Homo sapiens: one gene and its partner. The protein of the gene in region 1 interacts with the protein of each later gene in a pairwise test. Each region holds a gene or a part of one and is shown on either strand. Other genes may lie near its edges.

The links. Proteins that work in one complex are often made in the same cells at the same time.
Region 2: the proteins of UBXN11 (region 1) and ZGPAT interact in binary tests that used the Homo sapiens proteins (3 or more experiments, as listed by UniProt).

The regions. Positions count from the first base shown.
Region 1 is NC_000001.11:26,289,307-26,293,976, forward strand, and holds part of UBXN11 (UBX domain-containing protein 11), read right to left. Parts: intron 1-4,670. UniProt on the Homo sapiens protein: May be involved in the reorganization of actin cytoskeleton mediated by RND1, RND2 and RND3. Promotes RHOA activation mediated by GNA12 and GNA13.
Region 2 is NC_000020.11:63,713,705-63,718,374, reverse strand, and holds part of ZGPAT (zinc finger CCCH-type with G patch domain-containing protein), read right to left. Parts: intron 1-4,670. UniProt on the Homo sapiens protein: Transcription repressor that specifically binds the 5'-GGAG[GA]A[GA]A-3' consensus sequence. Represses transcription by recruiting the chromatin multiprotein complex NuRD to target promoters.

The DNA of each region.
Region 1 (4,670 bases):
TACTCATCGCTGGGCTCAAGCTGTGCCCACTCACCCCTACCTCCTCCAAGAAGCCTTGCTAGGAGCCACCCCCAACCTGCCTTGAGGCTGCATGCCTGGAGCCCTTGCACCTACTCCCTTGGCCCTCGTCACAGGCCGCTGCTTTCTGCTTGCTTGTTTGCCTTCCAGCCATGCTGGGCACCCCTTGAGCTCAGGAGCATTGAGCCCTGGGCCTGGCCCAGAGTGGCTGGGCCACTAAAAGCAGGGTTGGATCCTGCTTTCCAGAAATGTCTGAGCACCCGTGCTCTGCTAGGCCCTGCCCATCATGGCGATGCCCACGCCCAGGGTCCTGCCATCCTCAGGCTCAGACTCAAGTGAAGAAGACGGGGCGGCAAATGGCGACAATGGCATGTGTAAGTATCACTGTGGGGGCTGTGGAGCCCAGAAGAGGGCCAGACCCTACCATGCTCAGTGGAGAGGTGGCAGCCCCTCACTGCACAAGTGCCCAGGGCACCCCGGCAGCTCACGCGGTGCCGCCCTCCATGTGCCTGCCCTTGACCCTCAGGCAAAGACGGCTGCAACAGGAAGTGGAACCACTATTACCACACACCTGCAAGCCAGGCCCCGCTCTGGGGACTTTACTGCAGTCACTCTGCTCTTCAGAGGAGCCAGTGCAGGAAAGGAGGCCCTGCAGGTCTGGTCCCCGCCAGAACACTCAACCAGCCTGTGGACTGGCAGGATCTGAACTCAGGCCTGCCGGGTCCCACCTGCAGCTCTCTCTGGCCCCTGCCATTGAGCTACGCACCACCCTGTCCCCACCTCATCATGTGCAGATGACTGTTCCAATGTGCTCTGATCATCCAAGCCTGGGCACACGGGCATCACAGCCAATCACATGCAGCTACACACACCCTTGCCCATGTGCCAAGCACTGGGACATGCATGACAACAGCTAGGTGACAGTGGCTGTCACAGTTTATTACCACATCCATTCAGTGGCCCTAGGAGCCCGTCAGCACGACTGAGGAGGAAATGAACTCAGAGGGGGTCAGCGATCTGCTGATCTGGGGTCTGACCCGACCTGAACCCTGCCTCAGCCAGAGCTTTTAGCCCCTTCCCTCAAGCAGAGCCCTCCCCACAGAGCAGCACAGCCCACACAGGGCAGTCAGAGTTTGCTGGCGGAGGTTGGATTTGCCCTGAGCTTCAGAGGGGAGGGAAGCGGGCAAGGCGCTCTGTGGGGACAGAGCAGGAGCAAAGGCTGGAGGCAGAAGTGCAGGTGGGGAGGGGTCAAGCCAGGTGGCTCTGGGATTGAAGGGCAAGCCCAGGGGCAAGTCACGCAGGCTGCGGAGTCAGGGGGCCTCCAACCCAGACTCAGGAGTGTGGGGCTTGAGAGGAAGGAGGGAGGCGTGTGGGGTGCTGGCAGGGAGAGGTGGAGCCATGGAGGGAGGCAGGGACTGACTTGGGTAGGGGAAGTGGGGATTTCAGAGGGGGATGAGAGGGTGAGGATTCTCAGGGGAACAGGGAAGTAGTGAGGAGTGAGGAGCTCAGAGATGCAGAGGGTGGGGGGGAAGGGAGAACTTCAGAGCTGACCAGAGCTCTCAGCCCCGAGGCCCAACACCTGGCCCCAGTGGCGTGTGACCAGAGCAGGACTGTCCCTTTCATGTCTCCACAGACCCTGAAGCACCTGGCACAGCATGCTCTGTGACGCTGGCAGAGAGAGGGGGAGAGTGAGCGATCCAGCCTGAGGCCAAGCCCCTTCATGGCCCCACCGGCCCTCCTCCCTAGGAGTCCCAGGCTCCAGGAAGTTTGATCACCCCACTGGCTCGGCACAGACGGCCCTGGCTCACCCTCCACAGGCCTCCACCCCAGCGCCTGTGGGAGCCTCTCCAACAGAGGGAGAGCAGAGCAATCAGCCGAGTGTCAGGCAGGCCAGCGGGGGCCAGGCTGTGAGCCTGAGGCCCCTGGGCGGAGCAGGGTGGCACCTGGGGAGAGAGGAACGGGGACGCCGGAGAGATGTCCCAGGAACAGAAGCTGCTAGCGACGAAAAACGTCATTCATCTGGCAGAAAGAGCCGAATCAAGGCCCCCCGCCCATGCTGAAAAAATCAAAGAACAAAAGAAGGAAGAGAACGCACGGAGGGACCACAGATATGGCCAGGGCCTCCAAGATGGAGGGCAGGGTTTTTCACAAGTTACTTTGACTTGAGGCACTCAGAGCACAAACAACCAAACAGGGCAGAGTAGGAATCCACAGAGCCAGGTCCAGAAACCAGCCACCTGGCAAGGAGCAAGGAGGTCCCCCCTGGCCAGGAGGAAGGCTGCCCTGCAACAAGATGGCAGGCCTACCTGAAGCCTGAGCCCAGCCCGCCACAGCAGGGCCCAGGGTGCGGCACTTGTGGGCCTCTGGCCTAGATCCAGGATAGACATTCTCAGAGCACCTGCAGCCACCCAATAGGGCCTCACCTCTCACTCATGCCAGGGGTCCCTTGAGAACTCTCCCCACGACACCCACCCTGGGTTCAGTTAGAGCTTTGGAGTTGGCATGCCTGGGCCTACAGTGCCCTGGGCAGCAGGGACACGCTCCCCTTCCTAGCATCATAGGGACTGCACAGCCCCCAGCTTTGCTGTGTCCCAAGTGTACTCAGCATCTTTCCCGCAGCTGTGCTCCCTCGGGTTATCCCTGACTCCTCTGGTCCTCTCCCTCATGTAAAGACACCAAGGCCACGGATTCTACTTAAATCTCTCTGCCCATCCCTTCTCACCATCCCCACCCTCAAGCTGGGCATCATCTCATCTTCTGCCTCAGTGACCAACTGCCTTACAGTGGGCTGTCAGCCTTAAGTCTTGCCCCTCTTCCCTCAATAATGAGTCCACAGACTCCTTAAGTGCCTCCCTTTACCCATCTGTGAAATGGAGTAACTCCTGGCCCCTGTCAAGGCTATGAAGATGCTGGCAGGGCACAGTGGCTCACAACTGTAATCCCAGCACTTTGGGAGGCTGAGGCAGCAGGATCACTGGCATCCAGGAGTTCAAGACCAGCCTTGGCAACGTAGCGAGACCTCGTCTCTACAAAAAATAAAGAAAATCAGCTGGGTGTGGTGGCACGTGCCTGCAGTCCCAGCTACTCAGACAGCTGAGGTGGGAGGATCACTTCAGCCCAGGAGGTTGAGGCTGCAGTGAGCCATGACTGTGCCACTGCACTCAGCCCAGGCAAAAGTGAGACCCTGCCTCAAAAAATAAAAAGAAAAATAAAGAAAAGAAAAAAGAAAATGCTTTGAAAGCTGCAAATGGCTGGGCGCGGTGGCTCACACCTGTAATCCCAGCACTTTGGGATGCCGAGGCGGGAAGATCACGAGGTTAGGAGTTTGAGACCAGCCTGACCAACATGGCGAAACGCTGTCTCTACTAAAAATACAAAAATCAGCCGGGCATGGTGGTGGGCGCCTGTAATCCCAGCTACTCAGGAGGCTGAGGCAGGAGAATCGCTTGAACCCAGGAGGCAGAGGTTGCAGTGAGCCGAGATTGTGCCATTGCACTCTAGCCTGGGCAACAAGAGCAAGACTCCATCTCAAAAAAAAAAAGAAAGCTGCAAATGGCACAAAAATGGGAAGTGATGTTTTGAGAACAAGCAGTGAGGGCGTTAGACCCTGAGATCTGGGGGGATCCAGCCAGAGCCCAGGCCTAAACAGGAGGCAGGATTCTCATGTTTGGAATCTGGGTTTTTACCTAGCAGGAAACCAAGAAGGTGTCGTCATCTTCCAAATGGGCCCCTTGGAAGCTGTGCTCCTATTCCCGTGGGACCCCTGCCCTCAGACTTTGGAAACAACAATGGCTGCAAGGCCAGAGCTAGGCGCTCTGCGTTTAACTCATTTGCTCCTTGTAACTCCCAGGGAAGAACACTCCTGTTTTGTTGATGAAGTGAATAGAGGTCATCTGCCCAAGTCACACTTGGGATAGGAGGTAGAGTCGAGTTGAGGGCCCAGGTGTGCCTGACTCTAGAGCCTGGAGAAGCATCTTTTGGGTGACAATCTCCATTCTTTGAAGAGAATGGGCCTGGTTTTCAGAAATGGCCAGTTTTATGGACCCAAATCTGTGGGTCTATAGGAGGGGACTGTGGGAGGAATCCCTCTAGATATTAGAAGTTAAAAATAAGACATGGTAGGCCAGGCGTGGTGGCTCACACCTGTAATCCCAGCACTTTGGGAGGCCAAGGTGGGCAGATCACGAGGTCAGGAGTTCAAGACCAGCCTGGCCAACATGGTAAAACCCCGTCTTTACTAAAAATACAAAAATTAGCTGGGTGTGTTGGCACACACTTGTAATCCTAGCTACTCAGGAGGCTGAGGCAGGAGAATTGCTTGAACCTGGGAGGCAGAGGTTGCAATGAGCCAAATCGTGCCACTGCACTCCAGCCTGGGTGACAGAGCAAGACTCCGTCTCAAAAAAAAAAAAAAAAAAAAAAAAAAAAGACATGGTAGGGGCCCACAGAACCAGGTGGATTCCAAGGGCCATAAGCAAACCTGGAGAGGGAGGCCAAACCTGGGAATTTGGCAGCAGCTTCTAGAACAGAAGGATTGCCTTTTTTTAAAACGGCAACATCTTCCAGATTGGTGGCGTTTTGTAGACTATGTGACCTGAGGCAAATAAGGCCTTGCTACCTCTTGTATCTCTGGGTCTCTGACAGATGAGCAA
Region 2 (4,670 bases), on another chromosome or scaffold:
TGGGCGACAGAGCAAGACCCTTTCTCAAAAAAAAAAGAAAGAAAGAAAAACTTTTTTGGAAAATTTACAAATATGCAGAAATAAAGACACTCTTGAATAACGAGTAAGTCGAACAAAAAAACAAAAGGGAGATTAGGATGTCTTGAGATCAATGAAAATGGAAATACAACAGAACAAAACAGCCAAGTGGCAGGGTGCGGTGGCTCTTGCCCATAATCTCAGCACTTTGGGAGGCCGAGGCAGTAGGACTCCTTCAAGTCAGGAGTTTGAGACCAGCCTGGGCAACAAAGTGATACCCTGTCTCTGCAAAAACTTTTTTTTTTCTTTTCTTGAGATGGAGTTTTGCTTTTGTTACCCAGGCTGGAGTGCAATGGTGTGATCCTGGCTCACTGCAACCTCTGCCTCCCAGGTTCAAGCGATTCTCCTGCCTCAGCCTCCTGAGTAGCTGGGATTACAGGCACCTGCCACCACGCCCAGCTAATTTTTGTATTTTTAGTAGAGATGGGGTTTCTCCCTGTCGGCCAGGCTGGTCTCGAACTCCTGACCTTAGGTGATCCACCCACCTTGGCCTCCCAAAGTGCTGGGATTACAGGTGTGAGCCACTGTGCCTGGCCTCTGCAAAAACTTATAAAAGAAATTAGTTAGGTGCAGTGGTGTACACCTGTAGTCCCAGCTACTTGGGAGGCTGAGGCAGGAGGACTGATTGAGTCCAGGAGCTCAAGGCTACAGAGCTATGATCGCATCGCTGCTCTCCAAACGGCAACAGAGTGAGACTGTGTCTCAAACAACAAAACAACAACAAAAAACAATCTTATGGAATGCAGTGAAAGCAGTGTTTAGAGGGAAATCTGTAGCTGTAAATGCTTACATTCAAAAAGAAACACCTTGGCCGGGAAACGTCTACTCAGGAGGCTGAGGCAGGAGAATCGCCTGGGCGGCGGAGGCTGCAGTGAGCTGAGATCATGCCACTGCACTCCAGTCTGGGTGACAGAGGGAGACTCCATCTCAACAGCAACCAAAAAAAAAAAAAAAAAAAAAAAAAGAAAAGAAAAAAGAGATCTCAAATCAATAACTTAACTGTATACCTTGAAAAATTAGGGGAAAAAAAGAGCAAATTAAACCCAAACCAGCAGAAAAAAGGAAACAAAGGTTAAAATGGAAATAAATGAAACAGAATGGGAAAACAATAGAGATCAGCAACAAAAAAGATCAACAAAATTGACAAACCTTTAGCGAAAATGACCAAGAAGAAAAGACAGGCCATGCGTGGTGGCTCATGCCTGTAATCCTAGCACTTTGGGAGGCCAAGGCTGGTGGATAACCTGAGGTCAGGATTTCAAGACCAGCCTGGCCGACAGGGAGAAACCCCATCTCTACTAAAAATACAAAAACTGGCTGGGCATGGTGGCTCATGCCTATAATCCCAGCACTTTGGGAGGCCAAGGTGGGCGGATCACCTCAGGTAGGGAGTCCAAGACCAGCCTGGCCAACATGGTGAAATCCCATCTCTACTAAAAATATAAAAATCAGCCAGGCGTGGTGGTGCACGCCTATAGTTCCAGCTACTCAGGAGGCTGAGGCAGGAGAATTGCTGGAATCTGGGAGTCGGAGGTTGCAATGAGTGAGATTGCACCACTGCACTCCAGCCTGGGAGACAGAAACAGACTCCGTCTCAAAAACAAAAAAACAAAACAAAACTAGCTGGGTGTGGTGGCTCACACCTGTAATCCCAGCTACTCAGGAGGCTAAGGCAGAATTGCTTGAACCTGGGAGGCAGGGGTTGCAGTGAGCCAAGATCATGCCACTGCACTCCAGCCTGGGTGACACAGTGAGACTCCATCTCAAAAAAAAAAAAAGAGGAAGAAAAGAGATGACTCAAATTGCTAAAACCAAGAGAGAAAGTGGAGCTATTACTACTGATCTTACAGAAATAACTAGGGCTATAAAAGGATACTATGAACAATTGTATGGTAACAGATTAGATAACATAAACAAAATGGACAAATTCCTAGAAACATGCATGCAAACTATCTAAACTGACTCAAGGCTGGACGCGGTGGCTTATGTCTGTAGTCCCAGCACTTTGTGAGGCCGAGGCGGGTGGATCACCTGAGGTCAGGAGTTCGAGACCAGCCTGGCCAACATGGTGAAATGCTGTTCCTACTAAAAATACAAAAATTAGCCAGGTATGCTGGCGTGCGCCTGTAGTCCGAGATACTGGGGAGGCTGAGGTGGGAGAATCACTTGAACTCGGGAGGTAGAAGTTGCAGTGAGCCAAGATGGCACCACTGCACTCCAGCCTGGGCGACAGAGCGAGACCAAACTGACTCAAGAAGAAACAGAAAATCTGAATAGACCTATAACAAATAAAGAATCAGTAGTCAAAAAACTTCCAATGAAAGAAAAGTTCAGAAACTTTCACTACAGTTATACGTTTTAGCTTCCAAAAAGAAAAGTCAATTTCAATAAGGAAATTGAATCAATAGTCAATAAACTTCCAACAAAAGAAAAGTCCATCTCTCTCTCTCTCTCTCTCTCTCTATATATGATTGTATATATCACTTCACTGTTGAATTCTATCAAACATTTGAAGAAGAATTAACACCAATCCCTTTTTACCTCTTCCCATAATATAAAGAATACTTCCTAACTCATTCTATGAGGCCAATATTATGCTGGCATCAAAGCTATACAAAGACATGCCAAGAAAAGAAAACTACAGACCAATATCCCTTATCAATACAGATGCAAATATTCTCAACAAAACAGCAGCAAATCAAATCCAGCAATGTTATTACATGATAAGGCCTTAAACTTTTAACTGTTAAAAAGATAAGGCTCGCTGCGGTGGCTCACGCCTGTAATCCCAGCACTTCGGGAGGCCAAGGTGGGTGAATCACGAGGTCAGGAGTGCAAGACCAGCCTGTCCAACATGGCAAAACACCGTCTCAACTAAAAACACAAAAAATTAGCTGGGCATAGTGGCGGGCACCTGTAGTCCCAGCTACTCAGGAGGCTGAGGCAGGAGAATTGCTTGAACCCGGGAGATGGAGGTTGCAGTGAGCCGAGATCGCGCCACTCACTCCAGCCCGGCGACAGAGTGAGACTCTGTCTCAAAAAAAAAAAAAAAGAAAAAGAAAAAAGATAGGGCCAAGTGGCTCATGCCTATAATCCCAGCGCTTTCGGAGGCTGAGGCAGGAGGATCACTTTAGCCCAGGAGTTTGAGACCAGCTTGGGCAACAGAGTGAAATCTCATCTCTACAAAAATAATAATAATAAAGAGATAATACGCCATGAATATGCGTGCTTTATCTGAGGAATTCAAGGATGGTTCAACATACGAAAATCAATATACCACATTAACAAAATGAAAGGAAAAAAACCACACATGATCATCTAAAGGAAAAAAGCATTTGAAAAATCCCACACAGCTGGGTGCAGTGCAGTGACTCACCCCTGTAATCTCAGCACTTTGGGAGGCTGAGGCAGGATTGCTTGAGCCCTGGAGTTTAAGACCAGCCTGGGCAGCAAAGCAGGACCCTACCTCTACAGAAAAATTAAAAAATTAGCTGGGCATGGTGGCTCATGCCTGTAGTCTCACCTACTCAGGAGGATGAAGTAGGAGGATCCCCTGAGCCCAGGAATTCGAGGTTGCAGTGAGCCATGATCATGCCACTGCCCTCCAGCCTGGGTGACAGAACAAGACCCTATCTTTAAAAAAAAAATCAACACCCTTTCATGATAAAAAACACTCAACACACTATGAATATAAGAGAATTTCCTCAACTCGATAAAGGGAATCTACAGAAAACCTACAAGTAACATCATATTCAACAGTGAAAGACTAAAAGTTTTCCACCTAATATCAGGAACAAAAAAGTTTTCCACCTAAGATCAGGAACAAGATAAAGATGTTTGTTCTAGCCACTTTTTTTTTTTTTTTTTTTAAAGACAGGGTTCTTGCTCTGTCGTCCAGGCTGGAGTGGAGTGGCATGATCTTGGCTCACTGCAACCTCCGCCCCCCAGGTTCAAGCAATTCTCATGTCTCACCCTCTCAAGTAGCTGGGACTACAGGTGCACATCACCTCACCCAGCTAATTTTTGTATTTTTAGTAGAGATGGGGTTTCGCCGTGTTGGCCAGGCTGGTCTCAAACTGCTGATCTCAAGTGATCTGCCCACTTCCACCTCCCAAAGTGCTGGGAACACAGGTGTGAGCCACCACCCCCGGCCCGCTCTAGTCACTTTTATTCAACATTGTACTTGAAGTTCTAGCTAAGGCAGTTAAGCAAGAAAAAGAAATAAATGCCATGCAAACTAGAAACAAAGACTACAATTATCTCTATTCACATATATATTAATTGTATATATTGAATATATATGATTGTATATATCGAAAATCCTAAATAGTGCATAAAAAATCCTATTAGCACTAATAAACCAATTCAGCAATCAATACAGGATTAACATAAAAAAATCCACTGTATTTCTTTTTTTTTTTTTTTGAGATGAAGTCTCACTCTTGTTCCCCAAGCTGGAGTGCAATGGCGCGATCTCAGCTCACTGCAACCTCCGCCTCCCAGGTTCAAGCAATTCTCTTGCCTCAGCCTCCTGAGTAGATGGGATTACAGGCACCTGCCACCATGCCAGACTAATTTTTGTATTTTTAATA